Linked DNA regions of Homo sapiens: all the other regions are linked to region 3. Evidence: fine-mapped expression QTL. A gene starts in region 3. Each other region holds a variant in brackets. All regions are shown on one strand. Distances are between the middles of the regions.

The links.
Region 1: its variant is fine-mapped to the expression of OSBP2 in whole blood (INTERVAL, PIP above 0.99).
Region 2: its variant is fine-mapped to the expression of OSBP2 in fibroblasts (GTEx, PIP above 0.99). The same link has a PIP of 0.9 or more in adrenal gland, neural progenitor cells and spleen.

What each region holds. Positions count from the first base shown.
Region 1 is chr22:30,869,885-30,873,884 of GRCh38, forward strand. It overlaps OSBP2 (oxysterol binding protein 2), which reads left to right. Exons shown (of 14, transcript NM_030758.4): 3 at 545-798. LOC105372994 (a long non-coding RNA gene) reads right to left here. Exons shown (of 3, transcript XR_007068062.1): 2 at 3,193-3,327; 3 at 3,006-3,090. Among named protein-coding and RNA genes, the nearest start is that of MORC2-AS1, 50 kb to the right of the region's middle. RefSeq lists an enhancer at 2,842-3,342. The variant T/C (reference allele first, on the strand shown) is at 2,220.
Region 2 is chr22:30,715,824-30,719,823 of GRCh38, forward strand. The region is part of intron 1 of OSBP2 (oxysterol binding protein 2); the gene reads left to right. Among named protein-coding and RNA genes, the nearest start is that of MIR3200, 14 kb to the right of the region's middle. RefSeq lists an enhancer at 1,025-2,224. The variant G/A (reference allele first, on the strand shown) is at 1,623.
Region 3 is chr22:30,692,999-30,697,222 of GRCh38, forward strand. It overlaps OSBP2 (oxysterol binding protein 2), which reads left to right and starts at 1,876. Exons shown (of 14, transcript NM_030758.4): 1 at 1,876-2,555. The coding sequence starts at 1,912. RefSeq lists silencers at 1,549-1,628, 2,013-2,062.

The sequences.
Region 1 (4,000 bases), 180 kb after region 3:
GCGCTCAGGCCTTTGCAGGGAACAGGGGACAGATTGGTGTGGCTGGGGGATGGGCATGAGCAGAGAGCAAAGTGAGGTTGACTGGACGGGGGTGATTGGCTTGGGGTAGGCCTGCGATGCTGAGAAAGGAGCCCAGGCTCCATTCTGGGGGCCTCTGTGCCCAGAGAGCAGTCTCCACCTCTCCACCCAGCAGAGCCCATCCTTCCCTGCACACCACAATGTAGGGAGCTGGCGCCCTGCATGCAGGTGGGTGCCTGTAGGCCTGCCGCCTCCAAAGCCCAGTCCCGGCCCTGCCATTCAATCTGGGCTCTCTTTACAGTCCTTCCCACTGACTCAGGTGGGCCCTTGCCCACCCCACCCTGGGAAGGCTGGGCCAGGATGGGGCAGGCACCTCACCCCGGCCAGGAACAGGAACGGGCACCATCTCGGGGACTGATGTTTTTTGAATGGCGCTATCCACCCTGCCCTGCTCGGCCTGGCTGTGCAGGCCTCTTGGTACCACGTCTGTTCGTAATGACCGTAACAACTCTATTTTCTTCCACAGATGACTCTGGGGACGACGACGAGGCTACCACCCCAGCCGACAAGAGCGAGCTGCACCACACCCTGAAGAATCTTTCCCTGAAGTTAGATGACCTCAGCACGTGCAATGACCTCATCGCCAAGCACGGCGCTGCACTCCAGCGCTCCCTGACAGAGCTGGACGGCCTCAAGATCCCATCTGAGAGTGGGGAGAAGCTGAAGGTGGTGAATGAGCGGGCCACCCTCTTCCGCATCACATCCAATGCTATGATCAACGTGAGTACCCACCCCCACCGCCCTGGCACGGGGCTCCCTGGCTCCAGCCCCGGGGTCCCTCGGTGGGTGACCAGGGTCAGCTTGAAGGGTCAGCGTTCCATTTCCTGCGGTTCCACGGTGTTTCCCAAAGCCAGCGCCCCCCAGCTAGCTTCCGAGTTCTTAAATCATCTCCTTCACTCGGCCGTCGTTGGGCAAGGACATTCTTCCTAATTGTCTGGAGGAAACGAGTTGGTTGTGGACTCTGGTGCAGTCTGCAGTTATTTACTTCATGCCTCGATAAGGAAGGTCGGGGCCCCAAGTTAAGTAGCTAGCCCAGCAGGTCAGTTCTGCCCACACAGTAGGGACACAGCTGCCACACTGGCCCTCGGTGGCTGCTACTCCTCCTCCCTGGGTTCACTCCCCAGATGCAGTGGGAGCAGACGCTGTGCACAACAAGGGGAGGGTGTGGTGGGGGGCTGCAGTCGAGGGCTCCCTGAGCTAGAAGGGCCTCAGAGCTGAGCCTGCCGAGGTCGTGCCAACCTGATGGTAGACAAAGCAGGTAACCGCAGTTGTAAACTAAGCAGCCCCGCCACAGGAGTCAGCCGCTCACCCTGGCTCTGGAAGCCACACGGCTAGGACTGGGAGCCAGGAGGGTGTCTCGATGGTGGTAGGAGGATAGTGCTTGGCCCTGCTTCCCTCTTTCTGTCTGGGGAGTGTTCCCCAGAAGTGTGCGTGCTCCTCCAGGCCTCCACCCTCCAGACACAGGTCTGACTGCAACAGCCTCCTCCCAGGACAGTCCCCCAGGGCGGCACATCTGGGCCAGGGGTGCAGTTGTAGGAGCTTGGGGTGGCCTGCTGGGAGTAAGGAGACCAGAGCAGAGGAGCTGTACAGAAATGGAGGCCGCAGAGGAAGAAGTGAGGTCCAGAGAAGGGGGTTCAGGAGAGTCATCGTGCTGGCTGGGGACAGTGGGCAGTGCTGGTGCCTGGGTGACCTCCAGCTGGGGGACCCAGCCCCCAAACTAGGAGGTTAGACCAGGGCCGGACTGGGAGCTGGGACCAAGCTCCAGGCCCCGCAAGAAATGCAAGGGCAGGGTGGGAAGATAGAGGCTGGAGCTCACCGCAGGCCAAGAGCCCAGGCTAAAACCTGGGCATCCAAGACCTGCCCCAAGCCGGCTTCACTGGCCTGTTGGCAGCATGATTGTGGGGCAGGAGGGCCACCCCACCACCCACACCTGCCCAGATATGCTCAGGCTCAGGCCTGGAGCACCCAAATGCAGCCTTGGGAATCCCACCCTGGGGCCTGAGGCTGGGCGAGGTGTGCCCCCCTTCCCGACTGCTGGGAAACTCAGCCTGCAGGTGCCCACCCGCCTCAGCTCAGCAGGTGTGTGCACCTTGTCCATCCCAGATCCCACAGTGCTGGGGGGTGGGGGGCAGTTGGCCCCA[T/C]ATGCCAAGGATGCTGAGAGGCTGCTGGGCCACCCTGCGTGTTGGCCCCATTGTCACCTGCACTGTTTTCCTACATCCACCCTCTCAGGCCCACTGTCCTCCTTACAGCCCACAGACCAGATTGCTGTACTTCTACCAGGGACACACACAAATGTGAAGCACTGAATGACATAATAATGCGTTTGTATTTCCCTGTCCCTCCCAGAAGCCACTGCCGGAGGCTTCCCAGGCACTGCCTCCCTACCCGAGACCAAAACTGCTTTGTCTTGAATAAGCAGTTTTGGCTTTTCCGAGATAATGAGCGTCTCAGCTGGCTGCCGTCTTGCACAGTCTTTTATCAGACATCAGAGGCTCATCTGTGTTTACGAAGCCATCAGAACAGCTCCAAGTTTAAGTGCCTAATGAATTGTTTTATGAGAAGCACAACCCCCTGGGGTTGGTCACGATTCCTTTCTGCAGCTCCAGCATCCGGGGAACATGGCGGCAGAGTCAGCCCTGAGTGACGGAAGCTGTGCCCTGGGCTGGGTTCTGCCAAACCTGCTGGTGTTAGCCTGCCATGAGGGCCCCTCCCCAAGCTCCTGCTGTTGAATCAGGGGCAGGGAGGGCAGGAGTGCAGTGCTGCCCCGACAGACTGTGCTTGTAGCCCAGGCTAGCCCAGAGGCTTGTGTTTCCCCTGGGGACCCTTCCTGACAGCCACTCCTCGCCTGGCAGGAACCGGGGTAGTTCTGGAAAGGCTGTTTGCGTGGCTCTCAGACACCAAGGGTTCAGCCCCCACTGTGTGCAGAGGAGCCATGTAGGCAAAGCCGGCCACTTGCCTGAAGGTCGTGGGATACAGGCATTCCCACCCTTGGCCAGGCCTTGGCTTTGGTACCTGTTAGGAGAAGGTGTTGGACCAGGGCTCTGTAACTAGAACATCCATGCTGCTCCCACCTCCAAACCTCCAGGGAGCCTATTCAGGCACCAGACCACTTACCCCTTCCAACAGCCTGGTTAGCACCTTGAGGGATTGTTAGTGTCAACGTGGAAACTGAGGCTCAGGGAAGTCACCAGCATAACCCAGCTGGTAGGTGGCCATGCCAAGATACATGCAAACCCAGGTCTGTGTGGCCTGCAAGAGAAGTGATGGCCCTCATTCTCTCATTACCTCAAAGAGGTAAGGGTGACCTCCTTGGAGGGTTGCAGAGGCCCCCTCCTGCTGTGGCTACACACCAAGGCCAGGATGCGGGGCAGCCTCACCCGCACCCTGGGCGGGATCCCAACCTCAAAGATCTCCGTGAGTCCCTGGAGTGTCTTACCTTTCAGCTTCAAGGTATCCTCTGGTCACCATGGCTGCAGCCCCACCAGGGCCCCTCCTGGGAAGCCAGGGACTTGGATATGGAAGCCACGCACCGCAGTCCCCAGAAGGTAGAAATCATCACCCCCAATCTCTTCCGATCTCACAGTGAGAGGGAGCTGCTTCTCCCACTGTGGGGGCCCCACTGCAACTCCATCCCACTCCCCAGCCCCATCCTGACTGTGATGTGTGCGGGGATGCTCCTAGCATCCCCTAGCGCCCGTGCCTGCATTAGGGAAATCTCTACTGCCACTGGCTCCTCGGACAGGGCAGACCCTCTTCCTCGTGAAATGCTGTGTGTTTTCCACTTTGTGGGCTCTGATTGAGCCGGATCGTAGAAGTGGAGCCTAAAATGAGGGATGGCTGGCCAGACAAAGCCCACATGGAGGGTGTCCTTCACAGCGCGCTGGGGCAGGCAGCTCTCTTCCTACAGGGACAGGCTGGCTGC
Region 2 (4,000 bases), 23 kb after region 3:
TGGGATTATAAGCATGAGCCACCACACCTAACCTTTTTTTTTTTTTTTTTTTAACACAGGATCTTGCAGTGTTATCCAAGCTGGTCTCGAATTCCTGGGCTCAAGTGATCCTCCCACCTCAGCCTCCCAAAGTATCCCACCTCAGCCTCCCGAAGTATCGGGATTACAGGCCTGTGCCACCATGCCCAACCACAAGCATCTTTTCTTTCTTTCTTTCTTTCTTTTTTTTTTTTTTGAGACAGAATCTCGCTCTTGTCGCCCAGGCTGGAGTGCAATGGCATGGTCTCGGCTCACTGCAACCTCCACCTCCTGGGTTCAAGTGATTCTTCTGCCTCAGCCTCCTGAGTAGCTGTGATTACAGGTGCCTGCCACCACACCCAGCTAATTTTTGTACTTTTAGTAGAGATGGGGTTTTGCCATGTTGGCCAGGCTGGTCTTGAACTCCTGACCTCAGGTGATCTGCCTGTTTCAGCCTCCCAAAGTGCTGGGACTACAGGCATAAGCCACCACACCTGGCTGAGCATCTTTTCATATGCTTGTTGATCGTTTGTATAACATCTTTAGAGAAATGTCTGTTCAAATCCTTTTTTTGTTTGTTTGTTTTTTTGTTTTGTTTTGTTTTTTGTTTTTTTGAGACAGAGTCTCACATGGTTGCCCGGGCTGGAGTGCAATGGCTCAATCTCGGCTCACTGCAACCTCCGCCTCCCAGGTTCAAGCAATTCTCCTGCCTCAGCCTTCTGAGTAGCTGGGATTACAGGTGCCCACCACCACGCCTGGCTAATTTTTTGTATTTTTGTAGAGATGGGATTTCACCATGTTGGCCAGGCTGGTCTCGAACTCCTGACCTCAAGTGATCTGCCCGCCTCAGCTTCCCAAAATGCTGGGATTACAGGTGTGAGCCACCATGCCTAGCCCCTTTGCTCATTTTTTAATCATTTATTTGATTTTTGTTGTTGAGTTGTAGAAGTTCTTCTTACATTCTAGACATTAACCCACTGTCAGATATATGATTAGCAAATATTTTCTCCTATTCCATAAGTTTCCTTTTTACTTTGTTGATTGTGTCCTTCAAGGAACTTAAGTTGTGTCCTTCGATGGAGTCCCATTTGTCTGTTTTTGCTTTTGTTGCCTGTGCTTTTGGTGTCATATCCAAGAAATCATTGCCAAATCCAATGTCATGAAACTTTATGCCTATGGTTTTCTCTAGGAGTTGTACAGATGTTACATTTAGGCATTTAAATCTATTTTGTTTTAATTTTACTGTTTTTGTGTGTGTGTGTGTGTGTGTGTGTGTGTGTGTGTGTGTGTGTAGAGACAGGGTCTCGCTATGTTGCTCAGGCTGATCTTGAACTCCTGGCCTCAAGTGATTCTCCTACCTCAGCCTCCCAAGTAGCTGGGATTATAGGCAAGAGCCACTGCACCTTGCTGGGTCTTTAATCCATTTTGAGTTAATTTTTGCATATGGTGTGAGATAAGGGTCTAACTTCATTCTTTTGCACAAGGACATCCAGTTTTTTCAACATCATTTGTTGAAGAGACTGTCCTTTCCCCCACTGAGTCATCTTGGCATCCTTGCCAAAGATCATTTGACACAGGGAAAAAATCAAGGCCTTTTGAAAAAC[G/A]CCTACACTAAGGGGAAATGACACATGTTTTACTGTCCAGCTGCAGCTGTGCCATCCAGGACCAGATGGGAAGTTACATCCAGGAAAGTGGACCTCTAGAGTCCCTTCTCACATCTCTAGGCTTTGCTCACTAGCTATAAAGCCCTGTACTTACAAAAAGAATGATTGCCATAGCCTGTAAGAAAGCAGATGGAAGTCAAAAGCAGATCCTTAGGTTGATGACAAAGATTGCTGGTTGAGACTCTTATTTTGACACTTAGAGTCTCCTTATTCATCTTCTATTCATCTCAAATATGTGCCAACATGACTCCCCCTCAGGACTGGCCTCATCTCTGCCTCTCCAGCATCATCATCTCCTGCTGATCCCTTGCTCTACTCTGACACCTCAGTGACAATGGGTTGTGTGTGCATTCTGACAGGCGAGGGTGGGCGGGAGTTAGAATCGAGTCCTCAGCTCACCTGTCCTCCTGGATCAAGCAACTTCAAAACACATTGCCCAGTGGTGATTTAAACTCTGAGGTTAAAGCAGCAGTGGTTTTCTCTTGCTTGAGGGTCCGCAGATGACCAGGCCAGGTCTCCTTCAGGCAGTGGCACTTGGGAGTAAGCTAGGAGGTGTGTCTTCCTGTTGTGATGGCAGAAGTACAGGAGGGTAATCGAGAGTCACAGCATCCCAGCTTGAGCCTGCACACCCTCACTCCATTCCACATTCCATTGGCTGAATCAAGGCATGTGGCCCTGTCCAATATCAGTAGGGTGGGAAGATATCCATTCCCCATTTTAGAGGATCCTACAAAGTCCAGTGGCAAAAGTTGTGCACTTAAAATTGTAGTTCAGGGATGGCAGAAAGAAACAGGAGAAATGCTTCAGTCTGTCACAGCCTCTAACCTCCCTTCTAACGATCACATCCTTTAGCCTCTTTATCTATAGAGTGAGAGGACTAGGCTAGGTGATGTCTGGGGTTCTTTCTATCCTTACCTTTCTGAAAATTTGATGGGAAACCATCTGGAAGGAGGAGGAGGAGAGATGAGATATAAAAGATGACCTGTATGCTTGGCACTGGGCTTGGCACATCAAAGGACTCGGGAAATGTCTGTTGACTTAATGGCTTGGAGATCTGAGTCCAGGAGGCCAGGAATCTGGTGACTGACCTGGTAGGGAAAGAATGGGGGATGCTTTAGCTGGGCCTCAGGTGTTCACTGGCCTTCCTGCCCCTGGGGCCACAGGCCCTGGGCACTGCTGTTGGAGTTGCAACTTTACAACTTCGGAGTTGCAGTGACAACATCCGGGTGCTTGTCTCCCCCTTTTTTTTCCCCCTGCCAGTACTAACAGATTTGTTGCAGAAATGGCCTGGGCCCTTGCTCCTGAGCCCTGGGGCAGCATGGGAACAGGGCTGATGGTGTGTTCTGGTTCTCAGACTTGGGAGCCTTGCGGGCAGACTGAGTGGGGACTTTTTGCTGAGTTGTTCATGCACTGTGACAAGAAAGGCACCTTCTTTGAATTTTTTATTTTCAGAAAATAAAATTATTTTGCTAGATACAGGCATGGAAGCAATTTTCTTCTTTTGAATCCTGCAGTTCTTCTGAGTTTGAATTTATCTGTCAGCTTACTGAGCCTTTGCCTTCTAGAGACGGGATTAGAGTGTTCTTAACCTTGAGCTGATTCCCGCTGTGCCTTCTCTCCAGCCTGTACTTACCTGAGTGCCTCGCAGTCCTCTCAACATTATCCCTGGCTTCAGGCTGCTGCCCTCCTCACTCCCCTTCTCTTTCAGCCTTAGTTTGTGCTCGGTGGCAGTGTGTGTCATTATGTGTGCATGTGCAGCTGTGTGGCAGGACCAGTAGCTCATGTTTTGTCTGTTCCCTCCCAGAAGTCCCAGCCCACAGTAAATCAGTGTTCAGTAACTGATAGCCAGCCACACACTGCAGAGATGTGCCATGAATGGGAAGCTGATTAGATTTTCCAGGGCCCTGGAAAAGTTGCCTGGTGTGGTGGCAGAAGAATCTCTAGGTAAGGAACTTAAAAGTCACCAAGGCCAGGCACAGTGGCTCACACCTGTAATCCCAGCACTTTGGGAGGCCAAGGTGAGTGGATCACTTAAGGCCAGGAGTTTGAGACCAGCCTGGCCAACATGGCAAAATCCCATCTCTACCAAAGATACAAAATAAGCCGGGAGTGGTGGCGCACCCCGGTAATCCCAGCTACTTGGAAGGCTGTGGCATGAGAATTGCTTGAACCAAGGAGGCAGAGGTTGCAGTGAGCTGAGATGGCACCACTGCACTCTATCCTGGGCAACAAAGTGAGACTCTGTCTCAAAAAAAAAAGAAAAAAAAAAAAAGTCACTGAGCCAGAGCCAGGATAGCTTGAGGCCAGGAGTTCAAGAC
Region 3 (4,224 bases):
TGTTTCTAATAAACCTCCCTGGGGTGATTTTAACAATTATCATCATTATTTTGAATCGGTGAAACATACACACAGTGAAACATACACAGTAAAACATACAAAAGGTTCAAAGTGTGAGTGAAAAGCAAGCATTCCACCTCATTTCTCAGTTGTCCAGTTCTGTCCCCCACTACACCCCAGAGGCAATCACTTTTCCTTGGGGGGACTCACCATGCTGAAGTTTGAGGGTCACCGTCATACATATGAGATAGACCAAGATGGGGGGCTCTCTGCACTCCAGAGCTCACAGCAAAATTGCAGGTAAGACCACCATTCAAAGACAAGTGCCTGAGGAAGGGGTCTCAAAGTCACCAGCAAAGATGCCAGCGGCTCCTGCTCAGTGCATGTCTGCACCTCCTATTTCTAGGACCTTCCAATCTGCTTCCTTCTGGGGACCACTTCACGTAGGAAGCAGTCCCTACACAGGTTATCTTGTCACAAGCAAAGATCAGGAATGGATAGGTGGGTAAGGGGAGAGTAAGACGTGATGGTGAGCTAAGAGGAGTCTGCAGAGAGGTCTAAGCTTGAAAAGTCTGGACAGAAACCCAATGTTCAGTCTTTCCATTTGTATTTCTGATTATTTGTAGTAACCATCAACTTTCGTCATTTGGATAGATTCTTAAGAAAAAAAAAAAATCACTGATGGCTGGGCACAGTGGCTCACGCCTGTAATCCTAGCACTTTGGGAGGCCGAGGCGGGAGGATCCTGGCCTGAGGTCAGGAGTTCAAGACCAGCCTGACCAACATGGTGAAACCCCGTTTCTACTAAAAATACAAAATTTAGCTGGGCATGGTGCGGGCCGTGGAATTCCAGCTACTAGGGAGGCCAAGGCAGGAGAATCGCTTGAACCTGGGAAGCGGAGGCTGCAGTGAACCAAGATCACGCCACTGCATTCCAGCCTGGGCTACCGAGTGAGACTCAGTCTCAAAAAGGAAAAAAAAAAAAAGCGGAAAAAAAAATTCGCTGATGTTTTAACCATTCTGGGGTCACAGCCTCCTTTGTTATGGACCTACTCTGGAAAAATGCACAGACAGGTAAACCTCTGCGGAAGCCTCACAGACTGCCAGCCTACCCAGGGATCCCGGGAGGTCCAAGTTCAGAATCCCACTTTGAGATGTTTCTTGTACTAAAACGCTTGGTTTACAAAAAGTCTTCCCCTATTTGTTTAGAGAACCCGAACGATGTCGTCACTGGCAGCGAAGCGCCTTGGCATGAACCGTAGGCCAGCTGGCTCAGGAGGTGGAGGCGGTGAGGCGGCCACTTGGGGCCACCGCTTCTGGCGGCCGCAGGAGCGACCCACAGACAGGTAATGGCTGCCATGGGGGGCGGGGCGTCGTCTTTAGCCTTTAGCGCCCCTGTGCTTCGTGCGCATTTCGTGGCCTCTGGGTGCCGTACCTGCTTCCCACCCGGCTTTCCTGGGTGGCGGAGAGCGAACCCACCCCAGCCTGGGTTGGGGGAGGGGGCGTCGGCGCAGGGTCCCGTGGGCAGAGCTGCGCTGGGAGCTGGCGGGCTCCGCATTCATCATTGTTCCTCCAGCGCCTGGCACGGCTGGGCCGAAGCAGAGACCGTGGCCTGAAGCGCGCCATCCCCTTCGGAGTTGACCGACCACCAAGCTCTTCCGCCCACAGGTGTTGTCAGAGCTCCTTCCACCGGCCGGACCTAGGAAGGACCCAGGGTCCAAACATGGCCCGAGGCTGGCCGAGAGCACAACAGCCGGCGGGCGCTGACGGGCACGGAGCGCACGGGACCGCGGAGGAACCCGCGCGCGCCCCCGCCTCGCGCCGCGCGCACGTGACTGCGCCCCCGGCCCCGCCCCCGGCCTGCCCCCCGCCCCCACTGGCCGCTCGGCCGCGCGCGGGTCGGCCGGCTCTATGGGGAAAGCGGCGGCTCCGAGCCGAGGCGGCGGCTGTGGCGGCCGCTCCCGCGGGCTCTCGTCGCTGTTCACGGTTGTCCCCTGCCTGTCGTGCCACACGGCGGCGCCGGGCATGAGCGCTTCCACGTCCGGCTCCGGGCCGGAGCCCAAGCCCCAGCCCCAGCCCGTGCCCGAACCGGAGCGGGGACCGCTGTCAGAACAGGTGTCGGAGGCAGTTTCGGAGGCAGTGCCAAGATCGGAACCTGTGTCCGAGACGACGTCTGAGCCGGAGCCAGGGGCTGGGCAGCCATCGGAACTGCTGCAGGGGTCGCGGCCGGGGTCAGAGTCAAGCTCAGGTGTAGGGGCTGGGCCCTTCACTAAGGCCGCATCGGAGCCGCTCTCCCGGGCGGTGGGGAGCGCGACCTTTCTCAGACCCGAGTCAGGATCGCTGCCAGCGTTAAAGCCCCTGCCTCTTCTGCGACCAGGACAGGCGAAGACTCCTCTTGGGGTTCCAATGTCGGGGACTGGCACGACCTCCAGTGCCCCACTGGCCTTACTGCCTCTGGACAGCTTCGAGGGCTGGCTTCTCAAGTGGACCAACTATCTGAAGGGCTACCAGCGCCGCTGGTTCGTGCTGGGCAATGGTTTGCTCTCTTACTACAGGTATGGAAGCGCCAGGGTGGGACATGGGGGTTGGAGGGTGGTGATGCTGCAGGGATGGTGATGGAGGGCCTCCATGGTTGGCGGACACTGCCACTAGTCTAGAGATGTTTAGGGGCATGCATTCCAGCAGGCCAAGTCACGCTTCTGGCCCGCCGCCAAGGGCCGGGGGCCCTGACCTCTGGCAAGGGTGAATGTGATCTGCGGACATGACCTCTGGCAAGCTTGGGTTTTTGGGCAAGTGGGGAGGTGGAGTAAGGGAGTGATCTGGGGCCTCAGTTCCCTTCTGCTTGGCAGTTGTGGGGCTTGGGGCAGCTAGCTAGAGTCAGCCCCTCAAAGTCCTTGCCCTTTCTGGTTCGGGAGCTAACATCATTGTGTGTTTGGGATTGAGGGAGAGAGTCACCTTGTTCAGTCCTTAGGACCCACACTCTTAGGAAGGGCTGCTTATTCTTCCCGCCTGGGGCAGTTACTCCCACCTTTCCTGATGCCTCTGGTTGCCAGGCCTTGGGCTGGGCACCACAGACTCACAGATGTATTGGACACGGTTCTTGGCCTTCAGGAGTCCATCTTGGCATTTTGCGGAGAGCTAGGAAGTGTTTTGCTGCCCTCCTTTCTTATTCCAGACCCAGCACGGGATTCAAAATTAAAGTCCAGTGGTGAGAGAGCTAACACTGTCTTCCCACTGAAACTGGTTGAAAGGAGGTTACTGAAGCCTCCCTTTGCTTTCTTACTGGCTCTTCCCTGGGTCTGCTTCCTGGGGATGGTTGGTTTAAGCCTTGAGAACTCAGATCAGTCTATGCCAGTGGTTCTCAAACCTGAGTGTGCATCAGCATTCCCTGAAGAGCTTGTTGGAACACAAAGTGCTGGGCCTCCCCAATGAATTTCTGTTACAGTGGGCCTAGGGGAAGGGCCTGAGATTCGGATTTTCTAATAACTTCCCAGGCGTGGCTGGTGATGCTGGTCCAGGACCACACTCTGAGAAGCACTGTTTCATTGCTGCACACAAAAGGACCTTGACTTGCTGTTGCTGAAATTCAGGTCACTTCACTCACTTCATTCAGCCAACAGTATCCCTTCAAGTCACCCACTACAGGGTTTTGTTTTTTGTTGTTTTTGTTTTTGAGACGGAGTATTGCTCTGTCGCCCAGGCTGGAGTGCAGTGGTGCAATCTTGGCTCACTGCAACCTCCGCCCCCCAGGTTCAAGCAATTCTTCTGCCTCAGCCTCCTGAGTAGTTGGGATTACAGGCGCCCGTCACCATGCCCGGCTAATTTTTTTTTTGTATTTTTAGTAGAGATGGGGTTTCACCATGTTGCCCAGGCTGGTTTCGAACTCCTGACCTCAGGTGATTCGCCTGCCTCGGCCTCCCAAAGTGTTAGGATTACAGGCATGAGCCACCACACCGGCCTCTCCTGTCTTACAAATGAGGAGTTCTGAGGTTTGATGGGGAGACACAGAGCCCATTATCCAAAGGCACTGGCCCAGTAGACGGTAGAGAGGGATTCTGAACACCAACATCTGGACCTGTCCCAAATGTGTCCTGATACCCACTCACCTTTGAGTTCAGCATGTCTGTGTTACCTGTATTTACCAGGTACTACTAAACTGAAGAGTTAAAGGTAATGTTTATAAGTATAGTCTCCCACAGTGGCAGAAATGCCTGGTTTTAGTGG